4 linked regions of the Homo sapiens genome follow. The protein of the gene in region 1 purifies or fractionates together with the protein of each later gene. This does not show direct contact. Each region holds a gene or a part of one and is shown in the gene's direction. Other genes may lie near its edges.

What was found. The genes of interacting proteins can lie anywhere in the genome.
Region 2: the proteins of NOX4 (region 1) and CYBA purify together in Homo sapiens (affinity purification with western blotting, with the first as the bait; one study listed by BioGRID). This does not show direct contact.
Region 3: the proteins of NOX4 (region 1) and BPIFB1 purify together in Homo sapiens (affinity purification with mass spectrometry; one large-scale study listed by BioGRID and IntAct). This does not show direct contact.
Region 4: the proteins of NOX4 (region 1) and ASB2 purify together in Homo sapiens (affinity purification with western blotting; one study listed by BioGRID). This does not show direct contact.

What each region holds. Positions count from the first base shown.
Region 1 is NC_000011.10:89,396,279-89,401,910, reverse strand, and holds part of NOX4 (NADPH oxidase 4), read left to right. Parts: intron 1-1,531; coding exon 1,532-1,696; intron 1,697-1,831; coding exon 1,832-1,894; intron 1,895-5,632. UniProt on the Homo sapiens protein: NADPH oxidase that catalyzes predominantly the reduction of oxygen to H2O2. Can also catalyze to a smaller extent, the reduction of oxygen to superoxide. May function as an oxygen sensor regulating the KCNK3/TASK-1 potassium channel and HIF1A activity.
Region 2 is NC_000016.10:88,645,422-88,648,053, reverse strand, and holds part of CYBA (cytochrome b-245 light chain), read left to right. Parts: coding exon 1-9; intron 10-878; coding exon 879-953; intron 954-1,215; coding exon 1,216-1,299; intron 1,300-1,856; coding exon 1,857-1,938; intron 1,939-2,624; coding exon of another isoform or gene 2,625-2,632. UniProt on the Homo sapiens protein: Subunit of NADPH oxidase complexes that is required for the NADPH oxidase activity that generates, in various cell types, superoxide from molecular oxygen utilizing NADPH as an electron donor.
Region 3 is NC_000020.11:33,303,714-33,307,213, forward strand, and holds part of BPIFB1 (BPI fold-containing family B member 1 precursor), read left to right. Parts: intron 1-244; coding exon 245-312; intron 313-1,132; coding exon 1,133-1,178; intron 1,179-2,288; coding exon 2,289-2,352; intron 2,353-3,197; coding exon 3,198-3,274; intron 3,275-3,500. UniProt on the Homo sapiens protein: May play a role in innate immunity in mouth, nose and lungs. Binds bacterial lipopolysaccharide (LPS) and modulates the cellular responses to LPS.
Region 4 is NC_000014.9:93,942,071-93,945,570, reverse strand, and holds part of ASB2 (ankyrin repeat and SOCS box protein 2), read left to right. Parts: intron 1-3,500. UniProt on the Homo sapiens protein: Substrate-recognition component of a SCF-like ECS (Elongin-Cullin-SOCS-box protein) E3 ubiquitin-protein ligase complex which mediates the ubiquitination and subsequent proteasomal degradation of target proteins.

The sequences.
Region 1 (5,632 bases):
TTTATTGAATGCTTAATATTATCTGCCAGGCATTGTGCTAAAATGTCCTGTATGCCTAATACAGAACACTTATTAGACATACAGAATGTTTCTTGCAATATTCGCAATGACTATTTGAAGTAATTAATATCACCCTCGATTTTCTGATAAAGAAATTGTACTTACCTTGATCAAAATCTCCAAACCAGTAAGTGGCAGAGGAAGCATGTAAACCCAGGTCTTTGACTAATATGCTTGCTCCTGGTAAACGTCCATAAGTATTCAGCGATTAGTTCAATAAGGGCCCTTATCTTCCTCTGTGCCTGTGAGAACTGCCCCCGTGCAAATTACACCTTTTATTCCTCACCTATAAAAAGTGGAAGTAGGAAATAGTGATGTCAAATGTCTCTATTGGAAGAGAAGAAAGAGAAGTCAAAAGCTAGAATGAATTTGTAGATGACTTTGGAATAGTGTATTAGTCGTGTTTATTATTATTAATAATAATCCTCTAGATCCCTATTAGCCTCTATAATTTTCAGAACTTTTCTGAGTTTCACATAATATTCACAAATATTAGGGCAGGTATGGCGACTCCCATTTTGCTCATGTGGGACCTGACACTCAAAGAGTAAGTGATTGTCTCAAAGGTGCAAGGCTGCTACATTGCAGACCTTGTCTTGTAGTGCTACTCATAACACAGTGTGGGGCTAAATGTTATTATATGCAGAAGAGGCATGGTCTGTCTGCATGAAAGAAGGAAGATTTGAAACAACTAAAGTGAGGCTTTAAAAAGTGACCATTAAGACAAGTTTTAGTTGGAGGCCTCAAAGGGATGTGAAAGATAAAGTGTGTAATTTTAGGAGAACAGTAAGCCACATAGGCTTCTGCACTTCCCAAAGTTTGCATGTGTCCTGGGATCAGGGCTAACCATGCAACACATATTCAAAACTGTCATGGTTTCCAAATTATAAATATTATTTTATGTTCTTATTATATTATATAAAAGTAAGTGGTAAACAACATGCCTAGCATATTGCATCTTTAAACATATGTGCTATACATATTTAACATATATATATATACATATTATATGTATGTATATTATGCATATACATTATGTACATTAAAAATCTAGGGTTTTCTTATTTAATAAACATTAGACTGTTACCTTATTTCTAAAATTATCCCCAGATTTATCGGAGATTGTTAACTCCCCTTTATTCTTTTATTAAATATATTGTGTATATACATTACATATCTGTAGGCATAGAAAGGTGTATGAAAGAATATATACTTGTTTGCTCATGGATAGTTACACCCAGGGCATGAGATTGAGGGTAGGGTCTTGATATTACTTTCTGTTTTATTTTATACTTTTGTTTGTTTGAATGATAGTGAGCATCTATTATTTTTTACTCATTTGTTATGTTTTCTTATTTAAAATACAAATTAAAATACTATTACTGTAATGTATGCAATAAGCAATTGGGCAGGGTGTAGATTTCTACAATATGAGTATTTCTTGAAGTATATTTTCAAAAATTTGTCTTAGACTTGGCTTTGGATTTCTGGACCTTTGTGCCTGTACTGTGCCGAAAGACTTTACAGGTATATCCGGAGCAATAAGCCAGTCACCATCATTTCGGTCATGAGTCATCCCTCAGATGTCATGGAAATCCGAATGGTCAAAGAAAATTTTAAAGCAAGACCTGGTCAGGTGAGTCAGTGGTCAGCAACTTTTTAAATAGCCTTTATCCTTATGTAATTTTTGGAATTTAGCAAACATAGCATCATTGAAATAGTTGAAATTCTTAATTGGTCATTTAAAACTTATCTGTTTGTTGCTTTTTAGTATATTACTCTACATTGTCCCAGTGTATCTGCATTAGAAAATCATCCATTTACCCTCACAATGGTAAGAAACATATCTCTTGCTTTTTCACATTTGTAGGGTGCTATGCATATTTTTCTTTTTTTGTGTCCTGTCTCATTCTAAAAGGTATTCAAGGCTATCATAGTACTCTTGATGTTTAAGTAAGCTATCTTTTTACAAGGAAAATAGTTATCTGCTCAAGAACTGTGTAACTACACTTTATTATTTTTTGACACCTTGCAATTCAGGAAGTAATGAATTAAAACGTATTAAAGCTTGTTGATTCAAAATATAGGCCAAGCACAGTGACTCAGGCCTGTAATCCCAGCACTTTTGGAGGTCAAGGTAGGAAGACCACTTGAGCCCCGGATTTCAAGATCAGCCTGAGAAACATAAGGAGACACTGTTTCTACAGTAAATAAAAAAAAAAAGCCAGATGTGGTGGTACACATCTGTAGTCCCAGCTACTAGGAAGGCTGAGGCAGGAGGATTGCTTGAGCCCCAGTGTTTGAAGTTTCATTGAGCCTTGATCCCACCACTGCTCTCCAGCCTGAGCAAGAGAGTGAGACCTTGTCTCAAAAAACAAATATATATATATATATATATATATATATATATATATATATTTAATTTCTTGAATATTTACTTTTCTCCTTTTATGGAGTATTTTAATGTATATGGAAATCTTATATATGCACAATTTTCTTTGGAGATGGAATTTAGGGGAAATACGGATACTCTGGGTTGAGGTGGAAACATTAAACAAAACAGGCAGTGTTTAGAAAAGGTAAAATCCAGTGTAATGGGAGAGAGAATGGAAATAAAATTAGAAAAATCAAATGGAGTAAATAATGGCATGGGAGGGCATCTAGCTAAATAATGGACACCATCAAATATGATTAGCTAGTCAGCATATCATTTAATATTATTATAATTATAAAAATAGCATGAGTTCATTATAAACATTTAGACAATTCACAGATATAAAATAAAATACAAACTTAAAAAAATTTTTCCCCACTTTCCAATCCTTTTCTCTACTGTTTGACATATGTCTTTCCAGATATTTTCCCATATGCTTCTGCATACATGAGTTTCTAACATTTATTTGCTGGATCATATTGTTTTGTAACTGGCTCCTTTCACTCAACTACATGTGATGGACATCTTTCCATATTACTGTATGTGCCTCATTCATGTTAATGACCATATAATATTTCACAGTAGGAAAGTACTGTAATTTATTTAATATTCTCATTGAAGTTGGATATTTGGACTTTATTCATTTTCTAAGAAAGATAATTGAGAACAGAGACCACATGTTTAAATGTATACTTAAGAAAGATAGCAAAACTATTTTATATATATGGTATGTATACATGCAGACAGATGGGAACATGTTGTAAAGCATGTTGTAAAACATGTTCCCATCTGTCTGCATCTATACATCCCATATACATGAAATTGGTAACATGAAAATAGAAGGGAATAATTGAAAAGGGAGAAAATACACAAGTAAGTTTGTCTTTACTTAAATAACTTAAGAAGTTTTGCCTAATCCTGAGTTCATAAGAAATTTACTTCAGATTGCCCTGGCCAGAACTTCCAACACTATGGTGAATAGGAGCGGTGAGAGAGGGCATCACTGTCTTGTGCCAGTTTTCAAAGGGAATGCTTCCAGTTTTTGCCCATTCAGTATGATATTGGCTGTGGGTTTGTTATAAATAGCTCTTATTATTTTGAGATACGTTCCATCAATATCTAGTTTATTGAGAATTTTTAGCATGAAGGGCTGCTGAATTTTGTTGAAGGCCTTTTCTGCATCTATTGAGATAATCAAGTGGTTTTTGTCTTTGGTTCTGTTTATGTGATGGATTACATTTGTTGATTTGCATATGTTGAACCAGCCTTGCATCCCAGGGATTAAGCCAACTTGATCTCGGTGGATAAGTTTTTTGATGTGCTGTTGGATTCGGTTTGCCAGTATTTTATTGAGGATATTTGCATCAATGTTCATCAGGGATATTGGTCTACAATTCTCTTTATTTGTTGTGTCTCTACCGGGCTTTGGTATCAGGATGGTGCTGGCCTCATAAAATGAGTTAGGGAGGATTCCCTCTTTTTCTATTGATTGGAATAGTTTCAGAAGGAATGGTACCAGCTCCTCTTTGTACCTCTGGTAGAATTTGGCTGTGAATCTGTCTGATCCTAGACTTTTTTTTGGTTGGGAAGCTGTTAATTACTGCCTCAATTTCAGAGCCTGTTATTGGTCTTTTCAGGGATTCAACTTCTTCCTGGTTTAGTCTCGGGAGGGTGTATGTGTCGAGGAATTTATCTATTTCTTCTAGATTTTCTAGTTTATTTGTGTAGAGGTGTTTATAGCATTCTTTGATGGTAGTTTGTATTTCTGTGGGATCAGTGGTCATATCCCTTTTATTATTTTTATTACATCTATTTGATTCTTCTCTCTTTTCTTCATTATTCTTGCTAGCAGTCTATCAATTTTGTTGATCTTTTCAAAAAACCAGCTTCTGCATTCATTGATTTTTTGAAGTGTTTTTTGTGTCTCTCTCTGCTTCAGTTCAGCTCTGATCTTAGTTATTTCTTGCCTTCTGCTAGCTTTTGTATTCGTTTGCTCTTGCTTCTCTAGTTCATTTAATTGTGATATTAGGGTGCCAATTTTAGACCTTTCCTCCTTTCTCTTGTGGGCATTTAGTGCTATAAAGTTCTCTCTACACACTGCTTTAAATGTGTCCCAGAGATTCTGGTATATTGTGTCTTTGTTCTCATTGGTTTCAAAGAACATCTTTATTTCTGCCTTCATTTCATTATTTACCCAGTAGTCATTCAGGAGCAGTTTGTTCAGTTTCCATGTAGTTGAGCAGTTTTGAGTGAGTTTCTTAATCCTGAGTTCTAACTTGATTGCACTGTGGTCTGAGAGACAGTTTGTTGTGATTTCTCTTCTTATACATTTCCTGAGGAGTGCTTTACTTCCAGCTATGTGGTCAATTTTGGAATAAGTGTAATGTGGTGCTGAGAAGAATGTATATGCTGTTGAATTGGGGTGGAGAGTTCGTAGATATCTATTAGGTCCGCTTGGGGCAGAGCTGAGTTCAAGTCAAGGATATCCTTGTTAACCTTCTGTCTCATTGATCTGTCTAATATTGAAAGTGGGGTGTTAAAGTCTCCCACTATTATTGAGTGGGAGTCTAAGTCTCTTTGTAGGTTTCTAAGGACTTGCTTTATGAATCTGGGTGCTCCTGTATTGGATGCATGTATATTTAGGATAGTTAGCTCTTCTTGCTGAATTGATCCCTTTACCATTATGTAATGGCCTTCTTTGTCTCTTTTGATCTTTGTTGGTTTAAAGTCTGTTTTATCAGAGACTAGGATTGCAATCCCTGCTTTTTTTTGTTTTCCATTTGCTTGGTAGATCTTCCTCCCTCCCTTTATTTTGAGCCTATGTGCATCTCTGCACGTGAGATGGGTTTCCTGAATACAGCACACAGATAGGTCTTGACTCTTTATCCAATTTGCCAGTCTGTGTCTCTTAATTGGGGCACTTAAAGGGTATTCAGTTAGGAAAAGAGGAAGTCAAATTTTCCCTGTTTGCAGATAACATGATTGTATATTTAGAAAACCCCATCGTCTCAGCCCAAAATCTCCTTAAGCTGATAAGCAACTTCAGCGAAGTCTCAGGATACAAAATCAATGTGCAAAAATCATAAACATTCCTATACACCAATAACAGACAAACAGAGAGCCAAATCATGAGTGAAC
Region 2 (2,632 bases), on another chromosome or scaffold:
CTACTCCATGTATCCTTCCACCTGAGGCTGGGGTGGGCGGGGAACGCCCAGGGCAGAGCTGGGGAGCCACTTCACAGTGAGCTGTTTGCCTCCGCTCCCCACCACCGCAGCCAGGCTGGGACACAGGGTGGGCTGTGCACGGGTTGGGCAGCCCAGGCCCCAGCAGCCAGGCCCCTCGCCAGGACCATGTGGCGATCAGCGGCAGACCCGCCAGTCTAAGTCCTGGTGAGTGGTGGGCAGGGGGTGTCACCAGAGGGCCAGGGCCAGCACTGAGGCCTCCCTGTTGGACTGCTGGGATCCCCTCTGCCCGCTCCTGTCAGTCATCCCCCTTGACCGGCCCCTCTACCTCCTCTGCCCCATCTCAGCCCTGCCGCCCAGCCGGACCTTGCGACAAGGAGCACTGGGCAGGGTGGTGGGAGGGAGGGCGTGGGCAGCCCCGAGTGCCAGACCTGTTGGAACCTCCCGTGGCTGCCTCCTGGCTCTGTGACCTCAGGCAGTGGCTGCCCCCGACCTTTTTTGAGACAGGGTCTCGCTCTGTCCCCCAGGCTGCAGTGCAGTGGTGCAGCTGTGACTCATGGCAGCCTCCACCTGGGCTCAGGCCACCCTCTTACCTCAGCCTCTGGAGTAGCTGGGACCACAGGCACACACCACTGCACCTGGCTTTTAAATTTTTTGTAGAGATGAGGGTCTCACTATGTTGCCCAGGCTGGTCTCAAACTCCTGGGCTCCAGTGATCCTCCCGCCTCAGCCTCCCAAAATGCTGGGATTCCAGGCATGAGCCACCGTGCTCGGGCCCCTCTCTGTGTTGTCTTCAGTAAAGGGAGTTCCCTGTGGCCCCTCAGGCTGAGCTGGGCTGTTCCTTAACCACATGGCTTCAGTGTGGCGGGCGTGTTTGTGTGCCTGCTGGAGTACCCCCGGGGGAAGAGGAAGAAGGGCTCCACCATGGAGCGCTGGTGAGTCTCCTCCTGCTCTGGGGTCTCTCCGGGGGCTGCGGGGCCCAGGCAGGGCTCACAGGGTTGGGTGGAGCTTGGTTTCTCACTTGGAGGCTCCGGAACCAACCCTTTGGTGCTTGTGGGTAAACCAAGGCCGGTGCCTGCCCGGTGTGTTTTGTGGGAGGAAAGAGGCCTGGGTGCCCTGGGGTGGTCAGCAGGGCAGCAAAGGAGTCCCGAGTGGGAGAGGCCCAGCCGCGCCGTCTCGCCTTCCTCCCTCCCCCAGGGGACAGAAGTACATGACCGCCGTGGTGAAGCTGTTCGGGCCCTTTACCAGGAATTACTATGTTCGGGCCGTCCTGCATCTCCTGTGAGTCCCCGTCCCGCACCCCCTCTAGGGCTCAGGAGGGCTTGGAGCCGACCCTCCCCACTGTCCCACCGGCCGGGCTGCCTGGACAGGAGCCACCCCCACTTACCTCAGTGTTTTTCCAAACAAAAATTCGGGTCCCTGGCTCTGGCAGGGCCTGTGTCTGCTGTCTAGTGTGCAGGATTTGTAAGGATCCACTCCAAATCCGAGGAGCTCCGATCCGTCGCCAGGGTCTGGGGTCAGCATGCACTGCTGGGGGGTCTTGCCTGGGCTTCCTGGTAGGGTGGAGGGTTCCGTGCTGTGTGTCTGCTGGTTACTGCCGGCTGAGGCCAGGACACCCACACGTGGCTGCTTCCTCCGAGCAAGTGCACCAGAGCCGCTAGTGTCCACATCAAGGCTGAGAACACCCAGGACCGAAACAAGCCCCGGTCCGCGCACGTCCCCTGGGTCTGCAGTCTGCCTTGTCCTGAGACTTTGTGGCCTTGGCCCCCAGACCTGGGGCTCCGTTCCCCTTTCTGAGTGCCCTTCTGTGTCCCTGCCTCTCACCCGCTGTCCCCCAGGCTCTCGGTGCCCGCCGGCTTCCTGCTGGCCACCATCCTTGGGACCGCCTGCCTGGCCATTGCGAGCGGCATCTACCTACTGGTGAGTGGCGCCCTCTGAGGTCGGCCCCGGCCACCCCCATCCCCAGCCCCTGCCCTGACACCCTCGGACACGCATGGCCCTTGAAGCCGGCTCTGTAGGCTGAGCCAAGGCTGGGAGCAAGTGTGAGCCTGGGCGTGTGCTCACAGCACGGCGGGGACGCAGCGGTTGCTGCTGCCATTTTTGGCGTGTCTAGTGTGTCGGGTCATTTCCTTGCATTTCCTCATTAACCCGCACCACAGCCCTGGGAGGGGTACTGGGGTCCCCACTTTACAGACAAAGATGCGGAGGCTCAGGGAGGTGCTGTGACTGGCCTGGGGTCACGCAGCCGGCCGAAGACCGTGCCTGCGCTTGGGTCCCATTATCAGGCTTTTCTCACCTAAACCCTATTCGCGCTGATTCATGGGCGGTGCCAGGACGCAGACATTTTCTTAAACTGCCGACACCTGCGTTTGGTTTATGACTGCTGCACCCTGTTAGAAGGCTGCCCATCCCATGGGATACAGTGATCTCTCTGAGAGGCCAGGGATGGGTGGGAGGACAGGGCGCAGCCTGGCCAGGCCTTGGGTGAAATGCCCTCTGCCTGCCCTGGGCTCCGGAACAGACGGCTGCAGGCCACCTCTCACTGCGGGGGTCTCTGGGTGGACAGAGCCCTCAGACTTTGCTTATTTAAATCCTTTTGTCCATAGAGCCAAGT
Region 3 (3,500 bases), on another chromosome or scaffold:
GTCGTCATCGTCATCATTATCATTCCCCACAGCAAGCCTAGACTGTCATCTGTTAAATGGGGAGTGGAGGCAAGTACTATCTCATTTAACAGATGAGGCAGGTGAGGCCCAGAGAGGTCAAACCCTTTGCCAAGGTCCCAGAGCCAGGAACTGAGATTCAGACCCCAGAGCCTCCCTGCATAACCCCTAATTCCACACTCGGATCCTCTTGAGAACAATGGGGCCTGGGCTTCTCTTGTTGCAGGAAGCCAGCTCGGAAGCTCAGTTTTACACCAAAGGTGACCAACTTATACTCAACTTGAATAACATCAGGTAAACACACAAATCATCATGAAGATTCTGCTGATGGAAATGAGTCCCGCCTGGTAACCATGGGTTTCTTTAAACACCGACTTTGTGGCTGTCAGGTGAAGGCGGCTCCAGGGTAGGCAGGGAGGTCCTTCCGGATGCTCCTGCTGACAAGGACTGCATGTGAGGGAATGGGGAGGAAAATGAAGTAGGCCTTGCAGCAGCCACGGCACAGGCAAACCCTAGCCGCGGCCAGCCCACTCTGGACACCTCCCAGGCCGTGGCAGTGACAGTCACCCGGCACAGAAGTGCAGGGCTCCAGCTGCCTCCTGCACCCTGCCTGTTCTCCCTCCCCGCCACTTTCCTGTGGCCCCAGAGTGAGTGCAGGGGCTGCCAGCTGGAGCCTCTGGGGACAAGTCAGGCCCAGGGCTCTTTTGATCAGCCCACATAGGGCTGGGCTGTTTAATATAAATGAGTTGTGCACATATCAAATCAGACTATCTGGCTGCCCTGTGCCCACAATCCTACATAGCAACAAACTGTCGAGCCAGGAATTGGGGCGCCCTTTGAAGGAGCTTGGGCCTCCTTGTCCACCACAGCCCTGACTCCTGAGGTTGATTTTTCTGCTCACTGGACTGCTATTTGTTTTCTGTGCCCCCTCTATGCCCCCCACCCCACCCCTGCCATTAGAATGCAAGCTCCACGACGCAAGGGCTTCATGTGGTTCACTGGAGCCCGCACTGTGCCTGGCACATAATAGGTGCTCAATAAATCGCTGTTGAATGAGTGGATGGTGAATGAGTGGGACTTCAGGGGCCGCTCTCACAGGCATCTTCCATTGCAGCTCTGATCGGATCCAGCTGATGAACTCTGGGATTGGCTGGTTCCAAGTAAGTGTTAACAGGTGGTGCCTGAGGGCACAGGGGGTGGCCTGGAATGGTCCACTCTCAAAACAGATATTGCCCAGGATTTGCTTCAAACAAGGTCCCCACAGAAGCACCATGGGGGGCTGGCCGGTCTCCACCAAAGTCCAACTTCCCTCGAGTGTTTACAGAGAAGCCACCACGTGTCAGACACAGCTGAGAACACACACACGCACACACAAATACACTCACAGATACACACTTTCTTTCAGTGAAGTTTTGATCCTGAATTAGAACACAAGTGCCCTTGACTCACAATCTCATTCTGCACACGTAGACGCGCCTCAGTGCCCCTAGACAGCCCTTTCCTGCTGGGATTCAGACCGAACCCCAATACCTCAGTCTGGCGTGTTTTCTCTGGTTTTTATGATTTGTTTTTCACTATTTTTGACTTTTTTTTTTTTTTTTTTTGAGATGGAGTCTCGCTCTGTCGCCCAGGCTGGAGAGCAGTGGTGTGATCTTGGCTCACTGCAACCTCCATCTCCCGGGTTCAAGCAATTCTCCTGCCTCAGCCTCCTGAGTAGCTGGGACTACAGGCGCCCACCACCACGCCCGGCTAATTTTTTGTACTTTTAGTAGAGACAGGGTTTCACCATGTTAGCCAAGATGGTCTCGATCTCCTGACCTCATGATCTGCCCGCCTTGGCCTCCCAAAGTGCTGGGATTACAGGCATGAGCCACCATGCCCGGTGACTAATATTTTAAAACACGGAGAGTTCCACATGCAAATCAGGACTTCTGGCTTCCCTCCAGAAGTCAGAAGTTCAGGCAATGCAGGGCAAAATTCCCTCAGGGCAAATTCAGCTGCAACAGAGTGGTGGGGCCCCTGAGGATGGGGCATCCTCCAATGCACCCCAATCCCCCCATCTACCAGGCCCCAGGGGCGGCTGAGTTCATGCCCCAACCCAGCCCATCTGGTCCCTGGGAGCCCCCACAGCTCTGATCAGCAGGGGACCTGGAATTCCTACATCTCCACCAGCCACCTCACCCATGGGGAGGAGCCACACCCACGAAGAATGATGGGGGGGAACTTCAGATGCTCAACCAGGGTGACAGTGCCCCTTCTCTCTCTCACAGCCTGATGTTCTGAAAAACATCATCACTGAGATCATCCACTCCATCCTGCTGCCGAACCAGAATGGTGCATACCTCTGCCATCTGTGCCCCCTCTCTCCCCAGGGCTTGGCTTTACTTCCCCTGCCCTCATCTCCATGAATGGGGCCCCTTTCATTCATCTCCCAGCCATCCCTCAGAGCCTACTTCAAAATCTGCCTCCTCCCAAGAACCTTCTCAGCCCAATTCCTTTGCTAGTGCCAGAGGCTGGGCTCGTAAAGATGAACCAAGCAGTGGGCCAGACTTGCAGGGCTGGAAGGAGACAGAGGCATAAGCAGACAATGAGAGCAATGACAGAGGTGTAAGAGACAACTGGAGGCGCCTCAGCAGACCCTGTTCCCCCTCTTGCTAGTGCCTGGCCTTGGTCAAGCTGCACAATCCTTCTGAGCCTCAGTTTCTCCATCTGTAAAATGGGGACGTAGAAGTACCTTCTTCAGAGGCACAAATCAGGAGGTGCCTGGCACAGTCAGTGCCCAACACTCTAATTCAGCCCCAGGTTGAATGAGGGGTGGGAAGGGTTTGTAACCTATACAGTTCCACCTTTTTAATTTCTTTATTTTATTAGACTGGAAAAATCTCAAAGTATAGAAACCTCTGCTGGGGATAATGGGAGCCCCTGATGGTTCTTGAGCAAGAGCGTAAGAGAATGTGAGGACTGCATTTTGTGAGGGGCCAGAAGCCAGTGCCAGAGGCAAAGGGAGGGTAGACGAGGCTGGGTCAATGCTGGGGCCAGAGAACAGGCGAGCAGAGGCAGAGGGGGCTGTCTGATCAGGCCTGCCAGGCCGGGGCTCCCCTTCAGGAACCCTGAGCCTGCCCCTGGCTGCCCAGTCTCACCCCAGGCCCATCAGTTTCTGACCACATTTGTTATTTCAGGCAAATTAAGATCTGGGGTCCCAGTGTCATTGGTGAAGGCCTTGGGATTCGAGGCAGCTGAGTCCTCACTGACCAAGGTGAGTGGGTGTGGCCCTAAACATCCTGCCCCAGGGAGGGCACAGCCACTGAGAGCCCTGGCTGGGAGGTGGGGCCTGCACTCCAACCCCAGCCTACAGGTGACCCTGGGCAAGTCCCTTCCCCTCTCAGGGCCTCACCTCCTCATCTGCAAGTGAGAAGGTTGGCTGTGCTGAGGATGGAACCCTCCTAGCCTGGGGTCAGTACACTTTTTCCACCCCCTTGTCA
Region 4 (3,500 bases), on another chromosome or scaffold:
TCATTTTCCTCATTTATAAAATGGGAAATGGTTACACCCGCCTCATGGGGTTGTCGGAGGACCAGTAAAATGGATACGTACGGATATAGAATGGAAAAAAGCACCTAGCAGAGCGCCTGCACCCAGTGTGTGCTCAGGCGTCCTATGCTCACCCACTCTTACTTAGGGAGAGTGCATTCCATGATTGAGCGGTTCAGACAGCAGCTCAAGCCAGGCAGTGGGCATGGACAAGACGGCTCCTTTCTCTTGAGTTCCACAAATCATCGGGCATCAGTCAGAGTTGGGCAAACACAGTTTACCTTGAGCCTGACCCCAGAGAGATCCAGAGTGAACACACGGGAAGTGGGTGCACTTTGGAAATCTCCTGGCCCACTGCCCCCCAATTCTAGCCTGCACATCCATGTCCCTCTGGGCTATTTTTAAAATGCCATATCAGATCCGGTGAATCAGAATCTCCAGGAGAGAAGGAGCCCCACTGTCTCTTTGAAAAGCTCCCTGAGCAAATCAGATACAGCCTGTCTATAGCTGCAGGGACCATTGATCTAATTCAGGCCCTGGTTTTACAGAGAAGGAAGCCAAGGTCAGATATGGAAGTGATTTTTGAGATAGCGGCAGGGCTGGGACCTTCATCTGGGCTGCCTTCAAGTGAACCCAGAGGTGTTGGCAGTCTGGCCCCAGCTGGAGGAGAAGCTGAAGGGGCACTAGGTGGCCTTGCGGATGATCAGAGAGTAAGGCGCGTCCTGCCTGGAACACTGTGTCCATGGCTGATGTTCCTGTAAACTCATCTACCTTGGATTCACGTGGATTCCCAGGGCGAATTCCCTGGTTATTCAACCTCCACCCCCGGGCCCCATTTCCCTCTGTCCCCCAAGGCTCAGAGGGGCCTGGGCCACTTTTTAGGGCTAAGCAACAAAGGGTTAAAGCCTGGTTCCCAGCAGCTTCTGCCACCAGGCAGAGCCCATGGCCAGCAAGCCCCGAGCTCATCACTCCCTCCCTGGGCATACAGCATTAAAGGCCCTCTGCTCGGGGATTTGATGTGACATTCCATAGGCATTCCACACTCTGCCACCTGCCAACACACCCTGGCCATCCGTCCCAGGCATGGAAGGCAGCACCAGGAGCCGAAGGCTGTTTGCCAGATGGTGTCTTCTCGTCAGCACACTTAACCGCAAGGGGTGACATGCGGGTGTGCTGAGAAAGGAGCCCTAAAGTCCCGATGTCGCAGTCACCTCCAAGACACGCATTTTCCTGTTGTTCATTTCCAGTTTAGCAAAGCCACCGTATGAAATCAAAGATCAACACCAAAGATAGACGTATTAAGAAACTGTGTGAGTTAGCGCAGAGCAGATGCCCCAAGAATAGCACCCAAAACAGTAGTGTCCAACCTTGGCTGCACCAGAAACCCTGATGCCTGGGCCCCACCTGACGAGATGGCGCTGCCGCTGGTCTGGGCCGTGGCTGAGGCTTCAAGGTGTCTAAGAGCTGCCCGGGAGATTTTACTGTGCAGCCTGGGTAGAGAATCAGGATCTTAGAGCCTCTTCTGTGGCCAACAGAAAACACAGACTTGCATTCTGGGCCTTACTTCTGCCTCCCTCGTTTTTAAATATTCCTTCTCTTTTAGTTCCAACATATAACACTTTTGCTGTATTTTATCAATCTTTGCAAGCCACTTGAAATTCTTCCTAGAATAAGGCAAAATAGAGAACACTTAACACATTAAATTAAAAAGCAGCTTATAAAGCACACTGACAAGCAAGTTAATATCCCCATTAGTTAAAAGAGAAACTGAGGCTCAGAGCTCAAGACTTCATAGAAAACAAGTCAGGGTGGCACAGTGAAGCTCAGAAGTGTTGGCAATGGAGCCGTCTGTGGGCAACTGGTTCCCATGTCAATCCTCCAGCCAATGTTTTTGTTGTTGTTTGTTTGTTTTTGAGACCGACTCTCTGTCACCCAAGCTGGAGTGCAGTGGCACAATCTTGGCTCGCTGCAACCTCTGCCTCCTGGGTTCAAGTGATTCTCCTTCCTCAGCCTCCCAAGTAGCTGGGATTACAGGTGTCCACCACTGTGCCTGGCTAATTTTTGTATTTTAGTAGAGACCGGGTTTCATCATGTTGCCCGGGCTGGTCTCGAACTCCTGAGCTCAACTGATCCACCCGCCTCAGCCTCCCAAAGTGCTCCGATTACAGGCGTGAGCCACCGCGCCCGGCCCTCCATCCAAATTTACATTGAACACTGACAAGGGTCAAAGCACAGTGACCTGGTGATCCAGAATGCCTCTGTGTTTAGGGTAGCAGGGGCAGTAGGCTGCAGTTGTGGTGGTGGTCAAGATACCAAGAGCATTGTTCATTCACTGCCGACTACGGGCCAATCAGATTCATGGGAAAGATCTCATTTATACTCAGAAGCAGCCTTGGTGAAAGATCATTACATTGTGCTTTGTAACCTGGACCTGGGGTTGTAAGCAGTCCTACCTTGCCGGATTGTTATGAGTAAATGAGTAAATGAGATTAAGTTCTTAGCTCTGAGGGTCATGCTAGGATTAAATGAAGTAAACAAATGTGAGGACCACTTTAAATGGTACCTGGCACACAGTAAGCGCTCAGCAATATTAGCACAATTATGACTTAAGAAGGTAAGGGGTAAAGTGCTCACAGCAACCCACTGGAGCTCAATAAAGGGTAGCTATAGCTATCACCATCATCATCATCATCATCATCATCACTATTATTACAATTAATTACCCCTCTGCTTTAGGTGCGGTTCAGAGAGGTTAAGTGACATGCTTGCGCTGGCCCAGTGCTGAAGGGTAGAGCTGGTGTGTAACCCATGTACCCCTGACTCTGAGCCTCCCAGTTTCCCCACTGCCCATGCTGGGCCCCTCTCTAGCTAAGGACAGCTTGCGTTGGCTCAAAGCTCTCTGCCCATTCCCCTGCTGTTGGGCTAGATTCAGGAAGGACATCAGAGCCAGGGCCAGGTGGTATGGCAAGGCTGCTGCTCTGAGGAAACTAGAATCCTGGAGTGGGAGCCCAGACCTGGGGCAAGGATGTCAGGCTTCAGATACTGGTGGGTCCTAGGAACAAGACAAGAGCCCAGTGATTCGGAATGAGGTCCAAGGTCAGAGACAGCTCAGCACCTGCCACACTGCTGCACTGGGTCTTCCTGGAATGACCCTGAGCTGGATCTGCTCCGGTCTCAGGGCCCAGACAGGAAAGGCTAAGCTGGTAGTTGTGGCCTCTGCATTGGGGAGGGGACAAGGAAGGGGTAGGGGGCCATTCTTCCAGACACCTACGGCTCTATCAGACAATAGTCACCTTTGTTCCTCTTCATGAGGTGCCGCTTGAGCAATTATACTCTGAGAATCCAAAACGTGCCTGTGGGAGAAGTGGGAAGAGTCAGACTGTTTGGTGGGGTCACCCCCTTGTCCTCCTGTCCTCTGCCCCACAAAATGGGCTGGGAAGAGGAGTGATGATGTGCAGTGGGGCTACCAACGTGGCCGCTCC